2 linked regions of the Homo sapiens genome follow. The protein of the gene in region 1 purifies or fractionates together with the protein of each later gene. This does not show direct contact. Each region holds a gene or a part of one and is shown in the gene's direction. Other genes may lie near its edges.

Region 1 (7,301 bases):
CACTGCTGTAATTTGCAGATCTGACAGTGTTTTTTCTCCTTAGTTATGTGAGTGGAAATAGAGTAGCATGTCTTCTATTAGTCAGAAATTTAACACTTTTTCTGAGAGTAATCCCACCCATACATAATTACATCATGGCTCGACTTTTCAGAGTTGCCAATGTACTGTCATTAAATACTCAATTATCTTAGAGATTTTCCTATTCCTGTGTATTCCACAGGAAGAGGAAAAGTTGCCTGGGTGTCTAGCCAGTACTTCATGCCATCTTCCATGTAATTTTTCTATCAGGTTAAAAGTAAAGGTAAGTACATTTTTGTGGCAGCTTTATAAATGTGTTTGGATTCAACCAAATCACTATTTCTAAACAAAGGATTCTTAAGGAATCCTTTATTTAATAAAATACACATGAATGATGTAACAAGGAAATAACAAACCTCATAATTTTAGTTTGTTTATATTTGGACATCATAAAATTCAGGGTTTAAATGATTATTGTGCTCTCCTAAAATTACACAAGTCCTATGAATGTTCTAAACCAAACAAGTATTTCTTAAAAAAAAAAAAAAATTGATATGGAAGAAGATTCTGTAGTCTGTCTTGGAAGCCTATCTTCCTTTCACTGGGAAGCTCTTTCTAGAGCTAGTATACTAACATATGTTAGGATTTGTTTCTTTTTCTTGTTCTGACCTCAGTGAAATTGAAAAAGATTGTCATTATGTTTCATGTTATTTCTATAGTTTCATTAATCTCGAAAAACCAAACCAAGTAAAAAAATTGTTTGGTTCGAGCGTGAGTTAAAAAAATACATATTTTGGATTGCTTATAGAAGTGATGTTATGTTTCTAATTTTAAAAAATAAAGATTTATCAAGAGGGATCCATTTGATTAGATGGTTCTATTACATATTTTTTGATGCCTCCTGTGTTTCAGAGAGTACTAGGTGCTAGGGACACAAAACAGACGTGGTACTTGTTTTCATGGGCTCGTGGTTCTTGTTTTCCACCATCTAATGGAGTGAGGAAGTTTTTTCTTTAAAAGTAACAATGAGTTGATATCTTGAGAATAGTAGGGGCTAGACAGGCAGAGAACAGGTGGCATGAACACTATATTTGAAGTTTCTGAAGTGAAAAATAACTTGGCAAAATCAGAAAGCTAAAGGAAGGCAAGGGTTTGTTGGATTGTAGTTGTGGGGAGTTGGGGAGCAGAAAGAGATGAGAGTGGACAGGTAGGCAAGGACCATCTACTGTTCCTTGTATACTTTGTTAAGGAGGTTTACAAAATTATTCTCAGCTCAGTAGGGAGCAGTAACATCATCTGTTCTTGTACTTTTAAAAGATAACTTTGTAAAGAGAAGAGGCAAGAGATGGGAATGGTTTGAATTAGGTGGTAGCAATGGAGATGTGGAGAGAAGTGAATGGATTTGAGATCTCCATAAGAATCTATAAGGCCAGACAAAGACAGGTACACTATATTCAAAGCAGAATTCCTTTCTGCTTTGAGCAGCTCAGTAGACATAGATGCCTTTTACTGTGTTAGGAAAGATGAAAGGAAGAGCAGACTTTAGGTTATGGTATGTTCTCAGTCACATTTTTTTGTTGTTACTTGGTAGATAATATGTAACATTCTATGATTAAATGCTGGTTTAGGATTCAGAATATTAAAGAAATGTTCTTGTCTCATAAAGTAACTGAGGGTAAAGATGATATGACGATGAAATACGTGAAACATTTCTTCTAACGAGGTAATCTACTGAAAGATTGGAACGTTCATTGTGTTTTACATGTGTTTTACTCTAGCCGTGTAGGACGCTCCAAACAAGCAGCTACTAAGGAAAATGATTCAAGTGAAGAAGTAGATGTGTTTCAGGGTAGCTCTCCTGTCGATGATATTCCACAGGAAGAAACAGAGGAGGAGGAAGTTTCTACAGTAAATGTATGTGTTCAAAGTTTCTGTGAGTGGTGTGGGATATAAAAAGAGTTAGTAAATGTTTGGTTAGATCATTTAGTACTTGTTTAGTATTTATATGTTTTACTTCATTAGTTCATAGCATCATTTTATCTACCAGGTTGGATAATGGAGAACATCTTTTATGGAAACCCGAAACTAAGCAAATAGGTGTAGCTTAATGAGAATGTAAATGTCAAGTCTGAACTGAATGTACAGCATTCTAATATTGACACTTTAAGCATGTAAGTTGTACCTTGATTTTAGGGCACTGATACCCATTAAGTATACTGTTGTTTATATTTTACAACTCTCCGTTTGGTATTTCTATTTGGGTTTCATAATAGAAATTAGAAGTTAGTTACACAGAATAAAATCAGCCTTTGGAATTGAAGTTTGAGCTGAATGAGAATTCATAAAATTGGTAATACATACTTATTTTGCAAAAGTAGGTATGTGTTACTTCCTGACTTTTTTGTTTTTGAGACAGAGTCTCACTCTGTCACCCAGGCTGGAGTATAGTGGCGCACGATCTGGGCTCAGTGCAACCTCTGCCTCCCAGATTCAAGCAATTCTCCTGCCTCAGCTTCCCAAGTAGCTGAGATTACAGGCCAATGCCACTGTGCCCGACTAGTTTTTGTATTTTTAGTGCAGACAGGGTTTTACCATGTTGGTCAGGCTGGTCTCGAACTCTTGACCTCAAGTGATCTGCCTGCTTTGGCCTCCAAAGTGGTGGGATTACAGGCATCAGCCACTGCACCCGGCCCTTCTTGACTTTTAAAGTAATAAATAAATAACTTTACCAGTTAATACAACTCAGATATTTCTCTTAGGAAAAAACATAATACATTTAAGTAGAAGCTCTTCTCCTATCTTTGTTTGAGAAACCCAAGCTCTATAATCAAGTCTCAGAATTGGTCTCTGCTGTTCTGTCCTGTTTAATGGAATCAGAACTCCTATCTGTACCAGGATTCATATTTGTGAATAAGCGAGTTAAGTACACAGGAAAATATGCATAATTGTGACCTCAAATTAGTTTGGCTTGTTTCTTAAAGGGTTTTGGGGAGGACATCAAAGTAAGTCTGAAGAGTCAGTAACGATTGATGTCTTCATCAGAGAAAAACTACATGTAAATTAAAACCCTCTTTTATATTCCTATTGTTAATATTGACATTTTTTGAACTAAAGTTTTATGCTTTCATTAGTGCTTGTCAGCAAATGATAATATGTTTGAATTTTAGGTTATTTTACTGTATTGATAATTGTTAAGATCCAAACTCAGTAACTGCTTTCCCAGAAAGATAATGTAAGTTCATAAATGTGAAATGTTTTCATTTACCACAGGAAACATAAGTAGAAAGATGATTAATCTGTTTGAGTTATTTTTCTTGCTGTAGACATTGACTTCTGTTCATTTCTCTTTAAAATTATTAGATAGAAAAGTAAAATAATTTTTTTCTTTCACTGTTCTGGGGAAGTCTGTGAGCCTGTAAGGGATCAAATGTTATAGAGGTCTAAATATGTGATGCCAGGGCAGAAAGTAAGGATAAAAAGTTTCAGGGAAAGGAAAGCAAAGAAAATCAGGAACAAATGAGAATAAAGATTAGTTAAAAATGATTACTGCATATCTTATGCACATATACCCATTTTAATTAAGCATCTGGTGACTTTCCTTTTAAGGTACGGCGGCGAAGTGCTAAAAGGGAACGGCGATGAACAAATGTAATTAATAACTTTCTCTGTGAAAGCTTTGGAAAAATCTTTTTTTTTTTTTTTGGTCAAGCTTGAGGCTGAATAAAGCCTTTGATGCACAAAATGGGACTGCTGAAGAGTGGACAGTTGGACCTTACTTTGGTGACCCCATACATTTGTGGTCACATGCTTTAGCCATACACATGGTAACATTGACTATGGAGTCTTGTGAAAGTGTAATGTGCGATGGCTATGTAGACATAAAGAAGAAACTTGTAAATATCTTTTTTCTTTTTTTTAATGTTTCTGATTTCTGAAGTGCTTGTATAGCTTTTATCTGCGGCTTTAAACTGACAGTACCCGACTGTTTATTGGATCTATTGATTTGAAAAGAATTTGTTAGGATAGATCTTAAGCAGTAATCTGTCAGTGTTTGTATTTGTATTCTCTGCAATTTTACTGTGAAAAAAAATTTGTTTTCAACAATTGGTGTCATTTTCTTGATGTCACTATTTGTTGGAGAGTTAAATGGTCTCTTCCCTTTGTGTATCTTACCTAGTGTTTACTCCTGGGCACCCTTAATCTTCAGAGGTGCTAAATTGTCTGCCATTACACCAGAAGGATGCCTCTGATAGGAGGACAACCATGCAAATTGTGAAATAGTCCTGAAGTTCTTGGATTACTTTACACCTCAGTATTGATTTGTCCCAGAATTTTCTGGCCTTTCATGGCAATGAAAATTTTAAGAAGAAAGATTTAAAGTATTTTAATTTTAAAGAGTGTGTTATAAAATAATGTACTGAATTCTTTATCCCATTTTATCATCCTTTCAGTTTTTATTAATCTACTGTATCAATAAAATTCTGTAATTTGAATGAGTTTTTAATAGTCTAGAATGTTATTGTGTATAGATATTTCCTCTTGAACGTTATGTTCAGAAAATGCAAATTACACTATAATATAAAACCTGATATATACACATTAGAAATATTCCAGTTCTCCGTAACAGTGTAAAGTTAATCAGAAAGAAAAAATTTTATTGATGCAGTGTGTCTTTATAAAGCTGTTCTTGAAAGCCAAGTGTTTTGTATTTTATAGTGAGTTGCATGTTTTTGAAAAAAAGTGCTGAAAATGGGATGTGCTGTTTTCTGTAAATTCATATTTAGCCATAGTATATGATAGATTGCCCCATAACATAGTTTTTCATCAAGAGTTTATTATTGTACTTTATTTTGGAGCCAAAAAATTGATTCTGGGGGGTGGGGGCAGCGTAGAAGTGGTATATCCAAGTATATCAGCTACTGTAGTTGTCACAGTCTTGTGAACTTTGAATGAAATTCCACTTTGTCCAGATTGGGAGAAGTGGAAATTTATTTGGATTTAGAGCAGGTCTTTTTTTTTCTTCATTGTAATCTGCAAAATGTAGAAATAAATTACTTAAGGCAGTATCCTTTATACAGTTGTATAAACTGTATTTTGAACCAAAACATATAGGTTACTACTTAATGCTTACCTAATTTCATTTTAGTATTTTAGGTGCTGTTATGTTTTTTCATGGTTAACACCAGAGGGGAAAAAATCATATTCTAACTTATTAAATTTATCACATTGAATAGTGGAACATTTTCATATGATACACCATTATGTTTAAGATATATTTCCAAGATTGGTTATAATAGATGGGGCATATAATAAAGAAGCTACTATTTTGGAAAATGACATTTTACTATTTGCCAATGTATATTGCAATTGATGTGATTATTTTTCTTTTAAAGATTTGTTTGTGTTTATGAAACAGCCATTTATTTTTTAAAAAGTGTTTTGAATTGTGTCTTAATCTCTCCATATTCAACTATTCTTCATTTACAACAATAGTGACACCAGTAATTATGAGAGGCTGTCATATATCAAAGCAGCTCAGGTGGGATCAACATACATTGGTTTTGAAATGTTTCCTTAGCTCGGTTCTCCCAAACACATAATTTCTGTTTCAGCAGTACAAAGGCATGTTTTAAAATCTATAACATAAAGAATAAGGAATAGCTTTGTATTTTTGTCATTGATTAAATTGCACCAGAAATGTTTATGGAAATATTAAGAACATTTTATAAAACATACGAAAAAGTGATTGTGAAGGATTTTTATTTGCATGATTATAGTTAAGCAAATTTCATTTCACATTTTTGTAATGCTGTACAGCAGTTCACAAAAAAATGTTCATTGTAGATTTTGTTATGTTCAATGCCAATGAGTCTGTAATTTTACGACCTGTCTGTTCTTTTTTTGGGTGGATTACGATGTAAATTTTTCTTTTCTTTCTTTCTTTTTTTTTTTTTTTGTGTAGAAAAATAGGTGCAATAATGATCAAAGTTTTGATGTCTTGAGTCTCCATCTTAGGGGATTATCTTACGTTTAAGCTTAACATTTCATGTAGTAAGATTTGGAGAGCCACATACTTTACAGTAAAATTAAGTGTGTATAAAACATTAATTGCTAACAATTGTTAGCAAACTATTTCAGTGATAATGTTCATTTTGAAAATATGTACTGTATAACATTAAGAAAATATTTAACTCCCTGTAACAAGTTCCATTATGAAAATCTTATTCCTCAGTGAGGTTATCTTGCTGCACTCTGTAGCAAATTTGTTTAATCTACATTATAATAAAATTTCTTGCTGCAGTGCAACAGGAGGCTTTTTCAGTGATCTTCACTGTATATGTAAATTACAAATGTGGCTGTAAAACTTATTCCAGGTATTAAAGGTTAAATTGCTTTCTATATCTTCTTATAACTTGTAAGTCTGATTTTTAAGATTTCCTTTTGTCCACTTGTAAGAATGTCAGGAATTTAAGAATTTGTTTAAATTAGGCATATCTCTGCCATCACATAGTATTATGTCACCATAATGAACAATTGCTATTTAAATAGATAACCAATTTTCAGACACATTTTTGGATTTCTGTGAAGTTGAATAAACATAAAAGCTAATACAGTTGTATTATTTTGTGTATGTAAATCAACATATATATTTAAATACTAAATGGAGAAAGGCACATTTGATGATTTTTAATTTTGGAGCCTTTGTTTCATGAAGTGGAAACACGTCTCAGTAACTTTTTCCAAACCTTTTGTTTAAACTTCTCATGCAAAATGTTGGCGGACAGAGAATTCTAAGTATTATTTAAGTTGAATAATTGCGTAACTGAACAAAATAAATGTATAATATAAACTTTAAAAATAAGCACTAAATAAATAAGTTGCCAGTAGCAGTTTTATTAATTCGTTCAGCAAACATTTATTGAGTGCCTTCTATGTGCCAGGCACTCAAAAATTTTACTCAGTTTTGCAGAGGATAAAGTGTGATCAAGATAGTGTAAGTCCCTGCTTTTGTGGTACTTTCATTATGTTAGAGGTGGGTGAATAAGAAAAAAAAAATTAATATATGATGTCAGATTGTGAAAAATGCAGTGAAAAAAAGGAAAAGCAGGATAGAAAGTACTAATGATAGGTGGAGAAGTTATTTTATATACTTTGAAACATACAGTTTAGGATTGTTATATCTTCATGATGAAGTGATATGGTTTATAATTTAAAATGTCACTTGGTATCTTTATGAATATTTTTAATCTACTTTGCTTGATATTAATGTAGCCATATCAGTT
Region 2 (4,307 bases), on another chromosome or scaffold:
CTAGCTGTAGAAACTTGTGCAAGTTACTTCACCTCTGAGCCTAAGTTTCCACATCTGTAAAAGGAGATAATAAACACCTACCTTGCAGTAGTGAAGCAAAGAGAAAATTAAATATATATGAAGCAATTTGGCTGGCATCTAGATCATTCACAGCCCTTTAAAGGTCACCTTTGCTGTTCTCCCCACTTTACAGATAAGGAAACTGAGGCCCAAAAAGGTTTGAACCCAGGTCTTCCAAGTCATTCAAGTGCTTTCTCCACTGTACAGGTGGTTATCAACCTTGGCTGCGCATCAGAATCGTTTGTAAAGCTTTTTCTTTTTCCTTTTTAAAAAGTAAAGCAATATATACACAGGTAAAAAAATAAAATAGTACAGAAGGGCTTATAATGAGAAGCAGCAGTTCCCTGCTTGCACCCCCACATCCAAAGGATGTGGAGCTCTTTAAAAATAAATTGCTCTGGTCCCACCTCTGGAAATCTGATTCAGCCAGCATGGATAATAACCCAGATAACTAACCCCTACCTCACAGGATAAAAAGGATTACATGAGATGCCTTAGGCTAAGGCCCTGGCACACAGGAACACATGTGCTACAAAGGAGCTTTGGGGACTTAAGTCCTGAGGATCCAGGAGGTGAGGTGACTTGTCCAAGATTCCACTGGTTTAGTGGCAGAGCCTAGACTTCCACTCGGATCTATTTAGTGCTTGCCCCCTGCTCTCTCCTGTCGTGCCCCACCACCTCCTGGCATCACAGGGCAACCGTTGTCAAGGCTATGCTCACGGGAGGCTGGGCACCACAGTGTTTCCAAGAGCAAGCTGGATCCGAGTAGATTCCCTAGGGCTTGTTGGAGGAACTAGTTTGACTCCCTTATACTGTGGACGCAGTAGCCTTGCTGTAGGGAGTTGAAGAGTACTCCACAACAGTATCTTAAGTTTAACTGGGCACTTCCCTCTGGAAATCACAGTGTTGTGCACCAGGAACACAAAGATGAGTCAAATCTTTATCCTGCCTTTGAGGAGCTCACTGTTTAGTTGGGGAAACCATTTGTAAAACAGCCATTAACCATACAGTGTGATCAACACTGACAGGAGCACAGGAAAAACATCTAGCTTATGTGAAGATTCAGAGAAGGCATCCTGTAGTCTAGGTGGTGATACCTGAACTGAGTCTTGAGGGACGGGTAGGAATTAGCCAGTTGAGGAAGTAGAAGGAATTTCCAGATATTGGAAACAGTATGCATGAAGACATGAAGGCAAGAAACAGCAAAACAAATACTGAAGCATGAAGATTCCTGGGGTGGGGGGAAAGCAGCAAGAAAAGGTAGAGAGGAACCAGATTGGAAGAGGGTCGTAAATGCATGGCTACAGAATTCAGATTTGTTTTGTAGGACAGTGTGGTTCCCAAACTGGCTGTATACCACAAACAGGTACGGCATTCTGGGCCCCGGCCCCTAAAACATTCATTAAGTCTGGGGTGAAGATTTGGAATCTTGAATGCTTATAAAGGTTACCACATGACTAGGGTACAGCCAGATTTGGAAACCATAGCTTGAAGGCAGTGAGGGAGCCATGAAATGGTTTTTAATAGGGGGACTCCAGATCAGATGTGAACTTAACCTGTTTCTGGCTGGCTAGCCAACCAGCATGGAAAACAGATTAGGTTAGATGTTCATGCTGTATGTGCCCGTGCCTGTAGCTTCCCTGTTAATCAGCTTCTTACACTACTATATTTGCTTATTTTGTCTCTGAATAAGCTTTAGGCACCACAAGGGTGGGCCTGGGGATATTTTGCTTACCAGTATAGCCCCTGCAAAAAAGCACAGTGCCTGACACAAAACAGGCACCCAGTAAAGTTTTTGAATGAATGAATGCATGAGTGAATCCATTTGTGAGAGAGCGAATGGAGATGACAAGATTAGCTAGGAGACTGGAAAAAGACCAGGAGGCCTGCACTAGGGCAAAGGCCAGTAGGAATAGATTGGAGGTGTTAAGGTGTGAACTGTTAAGGTAAGATGATAACTTAATGACTGATTATTGGATGTGGAGGGTGACTGAGAGGATAGAATGAGTACCCATGAATAGCCATGATTCCTACCCTGTCCCAGTCATCTCTTTCCTTATCCATCTCTGAAACAATCTGCTTACATCCTCCTCAGCAACTGGAATTCCTCAAGTTAGTTAGACATTCTGTGTGCTGTGTGGTCTCTCACTGCCCCCCCACTCCCCACCCCTCCACAAGCCATTGATTCATTCATCCAGTTCAATAAATCTTGGCTAAGCACCTCCAGTGTGCAGTAAGGCTCTTCCAAGCCAGGACTCTGACTCCCTCTTTCCTACCTCAAGAGATGTTTTTGAGGGCTTTCCCAGGTAAGAGTCACATCTCTTATACAATAACTTATAGTGAGATACCCAGAATGTCAGACTTGTAAGGGAAGACTGCCCAAACCCCTTCTGAGGTCCTCAGAGGGGAATTAACTTCCTAAGGTCCGACTGCTAGGAAGTGTTGGAGCCAGAAATGGAAGCTAGGTTTCCTTTCTATGTCATCTCTGGAGTCTTGATCTTGATCTATCCCATTGTAGATCAGGACAGGCAGAGGTGGTCAGGGAGAAGGTGGGACTTAGGTTGAACCTTGAAGGTCAATGTATTGGACAGGTCAAACAAGATGGTTGCCAATTACACTGCCCCCTTCTGGAAACCCTTAGCAAACCTGCCATGCTTGCAGTCCCTTCTAAGGGGTTTCCTTAGCATAAGTTGCCATGCTCTGTACCATGTGACCTCACAATCCTGGCCACAGATAGCTAGATGTGGATAGTGTCTGGTTCAAGGGCAACCAATCTCTAGGCTGGCCAGTGGCCTGTTAGCTGGACTGGCATAAGGACTTCACCTTACAGGGGTGGCATGTATCAAATGGCAAATGTATGAAACAACCAGATCTTTCAGGGAGGCAGAATGTGAGCTATTCAGAAGAAGTGAACGTTAATTAGAATTTAATGAGGCATTAGTGGTGGTGGATGAGGGGTGGCCAGAAACTAAACAGCAAAAGCAAAGAGAAAGCTGCAGAAACCATAAGTAAGCAGAGGTCATGAGACATTTGTATAATGAGATCACGGAGCCACAGGGTGGCAGAAGCCATGAAGCAGCAAGGCAACAATGGGCTAGAAGCCATGAAGCAATAGGAGCCACGAGGAACAGAAACCGTGAGACAAAACTGACTATGAGATCCACAAAGCAGCAGAAGGCTTGAATAGATAAGATCATGAGACAGTAGAAGCGATGAGACTGCAAGAACCACAAGGTAGCCAGAACCATGTGGCAACATGGCAACAGGAATGGAAGAGGCAGCAGGAGCTACAATGCAGAAAAGCCATGGATTAATAGGAACTGAAGCGCCGGGAGCCATGAAGCTGCAGGACCCATGAGGCAGAAAAAGCCATGGGCTAGCATCGAGGGGGGCAGAAAGAAGTTAGTCAGTAGCAGTAGGAGGAGTATAAATACAGCCAGAAAGGAGTTGAGTCACCAATTTGGGAAGCACTAGAGAAGGGAGCAACAGATGCCTGCAGCTGAGGGGGTGACAAGATAAGCCAGGCTCTAGAGCTGCTTTGGATCATGAACCATTTTCAAGTTTCTGTTCTTCCATGAGGCTGCCTGTGTAGCTGTTCTTGTCTTCCTTATTTCCCTGTGAATGCTTTAATAAATCCCCATCACTAACCTGTGTGTGTCTTTGTTCCTTGGAATCTAAAAGGTTAACACTGGTGTGCAGTTTAGATAACAGGAAAGCAGGGCAAGAGGTCTTCCTGGTGGGGTTGAAGCAAGACACAGAGGTGGGAATTCACTCATCCTTTCCTGCCTCACTGGCATGGGCACCTTTCATTCACTTACTTATTTTTATCATTCATTCATCCACTCATTTATTTATTACCTTATATATGCACTAACTCACAACTTCACTCACTTATTCATTAATGCATTAATGTAAGCATTTACCAGTTCATTTGCTCTTTCCTGTATTCACTCATGCATCATTTTTCCATCCATTTGTTCAGCAGGCATATGTTAAATTCCTGTCATGTGTCAGGCCCTGTGCTAGGTTCTGGGAATTAGATATACATGCCCTCCAGGAATTCTTGGCTTAATTGGGAACTCAGATAAGTAAGTGGTTAAGCACACTAAGTGTGGAAGATGATATAATGGACGTCTAGGTGAGGCAAAGTGAGCATATAGGAAGTATTAGGTGGTTCTCCCTGGGGTGGGAAAGCCTTTATAGAGGATGGTACACTTGAACTGAGTCTTGAAAGAGGAATGAGTGCT

Evidence for each region.
Region 2: the proteins of PDS5B (region 1) and SMC1A purify together in Homo sapiens (affinity purification with western blotting; 8 studies listed by BioGRID and IntAct, with this or other methods). This does not show direct contact.

The regions. Positions count from the first base shown.
Region 1 is NC_000013.11:32,771,393-32,778,693, forward strand, and holds the end of PDS5B (sister chromatid cohesion protein PDS5 homolog B), read left to right. Parts: intron 1-1,796; coding exon 1,797-1,932; intron 1,933-3,624; coding exon 3,625-3,660; 3' UTR 3,661-6,627; downstream 6,628-7,301. UniProt on the Homo sapiens protein: Regulator of sister chromatid cohesion in mitosis which may stabilize cohesin complex association with chromatin. May couple sister chromatid cohesion during mitosis to DNA replication.
Region 2 is NC_000023.11:53,373,549-53,377,855, reverse strand, and holds the end of SMC1A (structural maintenance of chromosomes protein 1A), read left to right. Parts: 3' UTR 1-3,707; downstream 3,708-4,307. UniProt on the Homo sapiens protein: Involved in chromosome cohesion during cell cycle and in DNA repair. Central component of cohesin complex. The cohesin complex is required for the cohesion of sister chromatids after DNA replication.